Regions from separate parts of the Homo sapiens genome. Here region 1 is linked to region 2. Evidence: fine-mapped expression QTL. A gene starts in region 2. The other region holds a variant in brackets. All regions are shown on one strand. Distances are from middle to middle.

Region 1 (5,383 bases), 51 kb before region 2:
CTGTGCCTTAAGGACATGTTCCTGCTGCAGTTAACTAGCCCAACCTATTCCTTTAATTAGGCCCATCCCTTCGTTTCCCATAAGGGATACTTTCAGTTAATTTAATATCTATAGAAACAATGCTAATGACTGGCTTGCTGTTAATAAATACATGGATAAATCTTTGTTCGGGGCTCTCAGCTCTGAAGGCTGTGAGACCCCGATTTCCCACTTCACACCTCTGTATTTCTGTGTGTGTGTCTTTAATTCCTCTAGCACTGCTGGGTTAGGATCTCCCCAACCAAGCTGGTCTCCGCAAGTGACGTCCATTGTGGGGGCTTGAATCCAGGTCGAAGGGTCACCAGAGCAACAGTTAGAGAATGTGGAACTAGCTGGAGGACGCCAGAGTACTCTTAAAGCAATCCCCGTGGTAAGTAAGAAGGGGAGCTCGGAAGCATCAGGGTAACAATGGGACAAGTGTGGGCTCTGGTTCCTTCCACCTTGGAGCTTTTTCACACTGATGATGAGGAGGAAGGAGAGTACAGCAAAGTAACAGAAGAGGGTACAGAGCATGTTTATTTACCAGCTAAAGCTAAAGCGGCAAAGGAAGGAGAGGTTCATCCCTACCCTTCTGAACCCCCTCCTTATTATCTTGAAGAAAATGACCCTCCAGATCTTTCTTTTCTGGAGGACACTGGGCAAAAAGTAGTTGCCCCAGTGACTGTTCGAGCAGCGCCTTGAGCAACCCCTCTTAGTTCTATTCAGGCAGGAATTCAGCAAGCTAGACAAGAGGGTGATTTAGAGGCTTGGCAGTTCCCTGTTAGAATACACCCCCCAGATCAACAGGGAAATATTATAGCTACATTTGAGCCTTTTCCTTTTAAATTGGGGAAAGCATATTTAGTTGATTATATCAAGGCCTGTGATGGTATCAGAGGTAATCTGCATAAAGCTACTTTGTTGGCACAGGCAATAGCAGGACTGATAGTGGATAAAGGAAATACTCCATTTCCTGGAGCTTGTTTTAACTGTAGGAAGCATGGTCATACTGAAAAAGAATGTAGAAAAAATCAGCGAGTCAGGCCGCCAGATAGGGGAAAGAAGAAAACTGTTGAGCCTGAAATATGTCCAAAATGTAAAAAGAAAAACACTGGGCTAGTCAGTGTCACTCTAAGTTTGATAAAGATGGGAACCCAATTTCGGGAAACACCATGAGGGGCCCGTCCCGGGACCCGTTCTAAACCAGGGCATTTCCAGCTCAGGCCATTCCCTCACCCCTGTACAACGTCTGTCCCCCGCCACAGCCAGTAGTGCCACAGTAGATTTATGCTGCACAAAAGCTGTGAGCCTTCTGCCTGGAGAACCCCTGCAAAAGGTCCCAACAGGAGTCTGTGGACCCTTGCCAGCGGGGACAATAGGATTACTTTTAGGAAGGTGTAGTTTAAGTTTAAAAGGCGTACAAATACATACAGGAGTCATTGATTCAGATTACAATGGGGAAATTCAAATTGTTATATCTACTTCTGTTCCCTGGAAGGCAGAGCCAGGAGAGCGCATAGCACAGCTCCTGATTGTGCCATATGTGGAAATGGGGAAAAGTGAAACTAAACGAACAGGAGGATTTGGAACCACAAATAAACAAGGCAAAGCAGCTTATTGTGTGAATCAAATTACTGATAAACATCCTACCTGTGAAATAACTATTCAGGGAGAGAAATTTAAAGGTTTGGTAGATACAGGAGCGGACATTTCAATCATTTCTCTACAGCACTGGCCATCCGCGTGGCCAATTCAACCTGCTCAATTTAACATAGTTGGAGTTGGTAAAGCCCCTGAAGTATATCAAAGTAGCTATATTTTGCATTGTGAAGGGCCCGATGGAAAACCTGGGACTATTCAACCAATTATAACTTCTGTACCTATAAGTTTATGCAGAAGAGATTTATTACAACAATGGGGAGCACAAATTATAATTCCAGAACAATTATATAGCCCTCAAAGTCAACATATGATGCATGAAATGGGGTATGTCCCTGGTACAGGACTAGAAAAAAATTTGCAAGGTTTAAAAAGTTCCCGCCAAAGATTGGGATGTCATTTTTGATGGCAGCCATTGTTAAGCCTCCAGAACCTATACCTTTAAAATGGTTAACAGATAAGCCAATTTGGACAGAACAATGGCCGCTAAGAGAAACTGGAGGCTTTAGAGAAATTAGTTACTGAACAATTCAAAAATGGGCACATAGCTCCAACATTTTCCCCTTGGAATTCTCCAGTTTTCGTAATTAAGAAAAAATCAGGTAAATGGAGAATGTTAACTGATTTAAGAGCCATCAATTCAGTTATACAACCTATGGGAGCATTACAGCCAGAATTGCCTTCTCCTGCTATAATTCCAAAAAATTGGCCTTTAATAGTCATAGATTTAAAAGACTGTTTCTTTACTATCCCCTTAGCTGAGCAAGACTGTGAATGGTTTGCATTTACAATTCCTGCAGTAAACAACCTGCAGCCTGCTAAGTGTTTTCATTGTTTTACAGATGGGTCTAGTAATGGTAAAGCTTCTTATTCTGGCTTGAAAAGTAAAGTTTTTCAGATGCCCTACACTTCAGCTCAAAAAGCGGAGCTTGTAGCTGTAACTGAGGTATTGACTGATTTTGATATGCCTATTAATGTGGTTTCTGATTCCTCACATGTGGTTCATTCCACACAGTTAATTGAAAATGCTCAGTTACGATTTCAAAAAGATGAACAACTGATGACTTTATTTACCCAACTGCAAACAGCAGTTAGAAGTACAAAGCATCCTTTTTACATCAACTCACATTAGGGCTCATACACCTCTTCCAGGACCTTTGACCGAAGGGAATCAAATGGCTGATCGCCTAGTTGCTACTGCAATATCTAATGCTAGACACTTTCACAATTTAACCCATGTTAATGCCTCTGGTCTCAAACGCAGATACAGTATTACCTGGAAAGAAGCTAAAGCTATTATCCAGAGATGCCCAACTTGCCAAATGGCACATTCCTCATCTTTTACA[T/G]GAGGAGTTAATCCTCGAGGATTGGAACCTAACTCTCTTTGGCAAATGGATGTCACACATGTTCCCTCGTTTGGGAGACTAGCTTATGTACATGTATGTGTGGACACCTTTTCTCACTTTGTCTGGGCTACATGCCAATCAGGAGAGTCTTCTGCCGGTGTTAAACGTCATCTTTTGCAGTGTTTTGCGGTGATGGGCATTCCAGCTTCTATTAAAACAGATAATGCCCCAGGCTATACTAGCCAAGATCTAGCTACATTTTTCTCTATGTGGAATATTGAACACATTAATGGTATCCCATACAATTCTCAAGGACAAGCCATAGTGGAAAGAATAAATCTCTCCCTAAAAGAGCAGTTGCAAAAGCAGAAAGGGGGAGACAGAGAATATGGAACCCCACAGATCCATCTGAACCTAGCATTATTAACTTTAAATTTTTTGACCCTGCCCAAAGGCCAGATGTTATCAGCAGCCGAACAGCATCTACAGAAACCACCTGCAAAGACAGAAACAGAACAACTGATTTGGTGGAGAGATCCAATAACAAAAAGTTGGGAAATAGGTAAAATAATAACTTGGGGTAGAGGTTATGCTTGTGTTTCTCCAGGCCAAAATCAACAGCCTATTTGGATACCACGAAGACACCTGAAACTTTATCATGAGCCAGATGCAGAGGAAGAGATTCCGGGATGATCCCGAGGACCCCCCTGGTTGCAGCCATGTCGAGACTGATGCTGAGGAGGACCCCACCTGTCACGAGCAACACCTGTTGAACACAGCCACCCAACTGGGGACAGATCAAGAAGCTGTCACAGATGGCGGAAGAAAACCTGAGGAAAGCGGGACAACCAGTCACAATGAGTAATTTAATGGTAGCTATGATAGTGGTTATCACCACTGCTGTGAGTATTCCTTCAACAAGGGCTGACACAGAGAACAATTACACTTACTGGGCATATTTATCAATCTTGGCTGGTAATAATGCCTGGATGTAATCACTATGACACAGTTACACATGTTTTCTGATCTCAGTTTTTACCATAATAAATTTGCTCCTATAATTGAGGCATACTGCCCTCAAAAACCTATTTGTAAACAAAATTGAACCTGGCCAGAAAAAAAGAATGTACTTGTTTAGGAAGATTGCATTGCAGAAGAGGCAGAGGTGCTGCACAACAATTCCTATGGAATCATTATTGATTGTCCCCTAAGGGGATGTTTAGCTTAAATTGCACCTCTCAGTCTGCGTGCCATGGCCACATTATGTTCAGCTGGTCTGAACAAAATGGTCAGATGGCAGAAATGATAAGAAGTATAGCAAGAGTTCCTATTATCTGGAATCATGGCGGTATAATGGCATCTCAACCTCAAATGATATGGCCCGTTGTAGGAGCTAAACATAAGGATTTGTGGAAACTTTTAAATGCTCTTAATAAGATAAAAATTTGGGAAAGAATAAAAAAGCATCTAGAAGGACACTCTACAAACTTGTTTTTGGATATCACAAAATTAAAAGAACAAATATTTAAAGCATCCCAGGCACATCTGACCTTAATGCCAGGAACTGGAGTGCTTGAAGGAGCTGCAGACAAATTAGCAGCTAGTAACCCATTAAAATGGATAAAAACACTTGGAATCTCTGTGATTTCAATGATGATTGTGCTTTTAATCTGTGTTGCTTGTCTTCGTATAGTCTGCAGATGTGGATCCTGACTCCTGCGAGAAGTAGCTCACCATGACAAAGCTGCCTTTGCTTTTATCAATTTGCAAATCAAAGAAGGGGGACATGTTGGGAGCAAGCCCCTCAAAATCTGGCCATAAACTGGCCCCAAAACTGGCCATAAACAGAATCTCTGCAGCACTCTGACATGTTCATAATGGCCTTAATGCCTGCGCTGGAAGGTTGTGGGTTTACAGGAATGAGGGCAAGGAACACCTGGCCCACCCAGGGCAGAAAACTGCTTAAAGGCATTCTGAAGCCACAAACAATAGCATGAGCGATCTGTGCCTTAAGGACATGCTCCTGCTGCAGTTACCTAGCCCAACCTATTCCTTTAATTTGGCCCATCCCTTCGTTTCCCATAAGGGATACTTTCAGTTAATTTAATATCTACAGAAACAATGCTAATGACTGGCTTGCTGTTAATAAACACGTGGGTAAATCTCTGTTCGGGGCTCTCAGCTCTGAAGGCTGTGAGACCCCGATTTCCCACTTCACACCTCTATATTTGTGTGTGTGTGTCTTTAATTCCTCTAGCGTTGCTGGGTTAGGGTCTCCCTGACTGAGCTGGTCTCGTCACTGCTGCTCATTTTTATATAGGTGTGTGTAATGATCAGGCTATGCAACTGATTATTTAGAA
Region 2 (5,383 bases):
TGCACAAGCTCTCTCTCTCTCTGCCTGCAGCCATCCGCGTAAGACGTGACTTGCTCCTTGTTGCCTTCCGCATGATTGTCAGGCTTCCCCAGCCATGTGGAAATATAAGTCCTTTAAATCTCTTTCTCTTATAAATTGTCCAGCCTCAGGTATGTCTTTATCAGCAGCATGAAAACAAACTAATACACATTCCCAAAGCAAAGTCCTAGAATTCCATTTGAAATCTCCTTCAAAAAAGAACAGACTTGAGAAACTTACTACACTCACTCTTGGGAAGAAAAAGGTTAACAAGAATTTTTAACAAATGGAATATGAATAGATTTTTGCCCCCTTGAAATCCACCTCCTTCTTGTCTCTTTGGAAATATTTTTTTTTAATCTTTCAAGCTCTCTGAATAAAACATATTTTAAAGTTAATGAAAAACTGAAACTGAACTAAGTGAATAAATCTTTTCAAGGCAATAAACTCAGGGAGGGGTCATGCTGGCAGAACACAGACATCTCTGGGTCAAGAGTCAGGTCAGGTCACTGCATCACTTTGGAGATCCTCACAGGCCCATTCTCCTCACAGAAATACTCAATGACCACCCTCCCAGGAGACACTGTACTGTGCCCCACTGTGTGCTTGAATTTTTTTTTTTTTTTTGGGACGGAGTCTTGCTCTGTCACCCAGGCTGGAGTGCAGTGGCGTGATCTCAGCTCACTGCAAGCTCTGCCTCCTAGGTTCACGCCATTCTCCTGCCTCAGCCTCCTGAGTAGCTGGGACTACAGGCGCCCGCCACCATGCCCGGCTAATTTTTTGTATTTTTAGTAGAGATGGGGTTTCATCACATTAGCCAGGATGATCTCGATCTCCTGACCTCGTGATCCGCCCGCCTCGGCCTCCCAAAGTGTTGGGATTACAGGCGTGAGCCACCGCACCTGGCCTGTGTGCCTGAATTTCTAAGCCCTTTTCTGCCTAAACTTTAACATGCTTGCAGCTCTTATACCTGGTGTTTTTCCCCATTGCAATACTTTAGAATAAACTCTCTTTTTTTTTTTTTTCTTTTTCAAACTGAGTCTCCCTCTGTCACCCAGGCTGGAGTGCAGTGGCACCATCTCAGCTCACTGCAACCTCCACCTCCTGGCCTCAAGCGATTCTCCTGCCTCAGCCTCCTGAGTAGCTGGGATTACAGGCATGCACCACCAGACTGGGCTAATTTTTGTATTTTTAGTAGAGACAGTGTTTTGCCATACTGGCAAGGCTGGTCTCAAACTCCTGACCTCAAGTGATCTGCCTCCCTTGGCCTCCCAAAATGCTGGGATTACAGGCGTGGGCCACCACGCCCAGCCAACTCTCTTCTTACATAATTCTGATGATGGTGCTTTTCTGGTTCTTGCACCACCTCACTGGGGTGGGTATTCCTTGTCCTTTGAGATAGTTTTTCTCCTTTCCCAAGTCCGAGAAAATCCAGAGCGCAGGAATCATTTCTAGATTTTTCCCTTAATACCAGCATCTGACTGGCTGCCACCAACGTGTCTCCAAGGAATGATGAAAACTGGGGTTGGAGGAAGAAAATCCCAATGCACCAGGGATTTGTTTTTTAAACGAAGAGTATACTAGGAGACGTCTCTCAACTCCAGGGCACCCAGATGCTGCCTGGAGAGGCTCTACTTCCATATTTTAAACTGTCCTCTGTGAGGAGATGACCCAGGAGAAGGTATTCATTAGACACTCCAAGAGATCTGGCTGCTAAACAGAGGACCAAGAAAAGATATAAGGGTGGCTGAGGACATATCACCCTCTAAAGTTTCCAAAAGGGAACTTCACCCCAAAGATACTCTGGTAAGATGTGCACACTCAAAAAAGATAAAATTAGGAGATGCACAAAGACTTTTTTTTTCTACAATTAACTGTCAGGTGATTATTTTCTGCTTTCCACTCATGTGTAATGTTCAGAAATATTTTAAGAGTGAAAACAAATATTTTCAGAACGACTCACTACTCTGAAAAAAATAACACACTTCATCTGTATGAAATGTACAATAAAAGACAAATACTTGATAATGTTGCATTTGAATATAGGAAAAGAATTGGAAATTTAGGGTTTTACTACAAGCCCCAGAAGAGTTAGGCTGTGGGAACAGGGTCGTTGATGTGAGATCCTGTTGCCATACACTTAGAAATGTGGAGTGTTATGTGAAAATAATTAAACACAGGCACTAGGGAGACTGAGGTGGGGGGATCGCTTGAGCCCGAGTCCAAGACTCCATCATACACATGTACATACACACATGAATGAATAAACAACCAACCAAAACGTAACTCATGCTTGTCTTGTAAATTAATAACTTAAAGGGAAACAAAACAGCCTTAAACAACCACGAACCCACCAATTAACCTCTGGTTACATAACCAGGAGATATCTGGCTGCACAGTCTATATGGGGTGACTACATAACTGTACACGATCAATTATTTAATTGGGTTTGCTTCCTCGGGTTCCTTACAAAAAACCCTTTCCTTCCCCAAACCACAAACCACGCTGGTGGCTTCCTAACTCACGACTCTCTGCTCAAATAAACTCCTTAATATTTTAACGGCGCCTCAGTTTTCTTTCTAACAGGAGAAAGGAGGATTTGGAGACTTCACAGACCACAGCTCCTCCCACGCAGGAACCCCGAACCCCAAGTCGGGACTCTCCCCTGAGGACCCTCCCGTCGGCACCGCACGATCCGAGGGAGATGCGGGTCTACAGAGGCAGAGCTGCCCAGAAAGGGTTCCGGGCCTGGCCGAAGCGGCGGGGCAGGGACAAGCCAGGCGGCCCGGGGTCTGGCTGCGGGTCCAGCCCCGCATCCTGTGCCACTAAGGCCGCGAGGCGCCGGCGGAAACTCGGGTCGGCACCGCGGGGAGGTCCGGGTTCGCCACAACCGCTTCCTGGCGGTTCCCTTTTCCCCTTCCCGAGACACCTGGCCGGCACACTCACCATTTCCCAGTCTCCGGTGTCTGGGGTCCTCCCTAAGGACCTTCCGGGACCTGCAGGTCCCAGAGCAACAGAAGCTGCCGCGGGACCACTTGGACCTCCCAGGGATAAGGGGAAGGAGCAGCGGAGACGCACCGAGCTCGCCACATTCGCGCTGCCCAACACAAAAGCCGCGCCAGGTCCCGGAAGCTGCTCCCTCCTTTCGCGGCGCGCTTGAGAGTACAGTCCCCTTCCCAGCGCCCGATTGGACAGGGCCTTAGGCCCCGCCCCTTCAGTCCTGAGTGACGGGAGATGCAATCAGACACGGCGCTGAGTGAGGCCAGGTTCTTTCCCTGCAGTCCTTTTCTAAGGCATGGATTCTGCCCTGTGCTGAGACCTGGCGCCCCCCGGGGGACTTTCCCATTCAAGCTCATACACAGGATTATGTCCATTTATGAGTAATATTTGTGATATTTACAATTGGAAACACTATGATGACAATTATTCTAAAATTTCAGATTTCACAACCTTCCTGGCCTCTGGTCTTTTGAGGAGGCAGCCTGAATTTTTTTTTTTTTCTTGCTTCTAGTGGGATTAGAGGCAGCTTGAATTTTGAAAAGACAATGTCCTCTCAGGTAGCAACGCCCCATAGAAATAAAATGTGAGCCGCGTGTGTTCCAGTAGCAATAGAAAAGAAAACAACACGTGAAATTGATTACAATGATTTATTTAACCAAATATATCCAAAAATATTGTTTCAATATATGATCGATGTTAAGCTCGCGCCTAATTGAAGAGACTACCCAAACAGGTTAAGTGTGAGCAGCAAGGCTAGTTTACTCACTCGGGTGCGAGCGGGCTGAGTCCGAAAAGAGGGTCAGCGGAGGGTCGTGGGATTGGAGTTAGTTTTATAGGTGAGGGGTAAGCAGTGGAAAGTTACAGTCAGGGGCCGTTTATTACCGGCGGGGGAAGAATGTCACAAAGTACATTGTCACAAGAGGGAGGGGTCACAGTGTCACTAGGCTGATTGATCAGTTAGGGTAGTGCACGTCACAACGGTAAAATGCTGCAAGGTTGGCTAATCAGCTAAGACAGAAACTAGCCGTTTTTCTTCCTTTGTGGTTTTCCTGTTGTCCCAGACTTTCTGGCTCCAGGACCTTCTGGATGTACACGTGTGGGTCACAGGGATCACAATGGCTTGACCATGGCGCAGCCTGCTCAGACGGCCTTACAATCGATATATTATTAATGAAAAATCACTCTATATATTAAGCTTCCAGCATGTTTCAATTCAGCCTGCACATTTGGATACACGTGTCTGGTTTTACCACTTTATTTTAAGGTTGTTCGGGAATGTCTGCCTGTTCCTTTCATGTAACTGTTCATTATTTATTGATTACTATTTCTTAATTTCACTTATCTCAGTGAGAGTTGCCAAATAGTGGTTTTCTAATTATTTTCTCTACAGGTATTAGTTCTCATTCTTCTATTAAAAATGGCGTTTTCTCATGAACTCTCTCCATTACATTAAAACCTACCCTATTAGGAAAGGAAGAATAAAAGCTTGATTCTCCCTTTAATCAATTGTCATAACAATGACGGCGTGGCCTCAGCAAACAAAAAAAATGTGAGTGACTTTTTTCTAACCTTATTTTTTGTGTATTTAATGAGATTCCATACACTGCAGTCTGTATCTATTTTTTGAGCTCAAATTATCCCTTTTTTTTTTTTTTTTTTTTGAGACCGAGTCTCACTCTGTTGCCCAGGCTGGAGTGCAGTGTGGCATGATCTCGGCTCACTGCAACCTCTGCCCCCCGGATTCAAGCGATTCTCGTGCCTCAGCCTCCTGAGTAGCTGGGATTACTGGCACCCACCACAACGCCTGATTAATTTTTGTATTTTTACTAGAGACAGGCTTTCACCATATTGGCCAGGCTGGTCTGGAACTCCTGACCTCAGGTGATCCACCCACCTCGGCCTCCGAAAGTGCTGGGATTACAGGCGTGAGCCACCGCGCCCGGCCAAATTGTCCCATCGTAAGTGAGGGGCTCTATACATTGCCTCCTTTGTCCTTGTACCATATGTTTTGAGAGCTTTCTTATTTTCTGGAGCAGACAGAAACTGTGTGCTTCCCTTTTTCTGTTATATACGTTGCAAAAAGATGACCATTTGGCATTTTCCTTTTTACTTGGCTTATGGCGTTTCCTAACACTCACAATATTCTGGTTTTATATTGTATCTTTATCAATGTTTTAATTTAATATTTCTTGGTTTTAGTCATAAGCCCGATTTATCCTCACAGCTTGTAGAAATATTTATCAACGTTTTCTTCTATTTTTATGTTTTCTTGTCTTTTTTTTTTTTTTGAGACGGAGTCTCGCTCTGTCGCCCAGGCTGGAGTGCAGTGGTGCAATCTCGGCTCACTGCAAGCTCCGCCTCCTGG

What was found.
Region 1: its variant is fine-mapped to the expression of ZNF670 in whole blood (TOPMed, PIP above 0.99).

Annotation. Positions count from the first base shown.
Region 1 is chr1:247,024,853-247,030,235 of GRCh38, forward strand. The region is part of intron 1 of ZNF670-ZNF695 (ZNF670-ZNF695 readthrough (NMD candidate)); the gene reads right to left. Among named protein-coding and RNA genes, the nearest start is that of ZNF695, 19 kb to the left of the region's middle. The variant T/G (reference allele first, on the strand shown) is at 3,024.
Region 2 is chr1:247,075,630-247,081,012 of GRCh38, forward strand. It overlaps ZNF670 (zinc finger protein 670), which reads right to left and starts at 3,182. Exons shown (of 4, transcript NM_033213.5): 1 at 2,965-3,182. The coding sequence starts at 2,967. It overlaps ZNF670-ZNF695 (ZNF670-ZNF695 readthrough (NMD candidate)), which reads right to left and starts at 3,182. Exons shown (of 7, transcript NR_037894.2): 1 at 2,965-3,182. RefSeq lists silencers at 3,045-3,358, 3,147-3,216.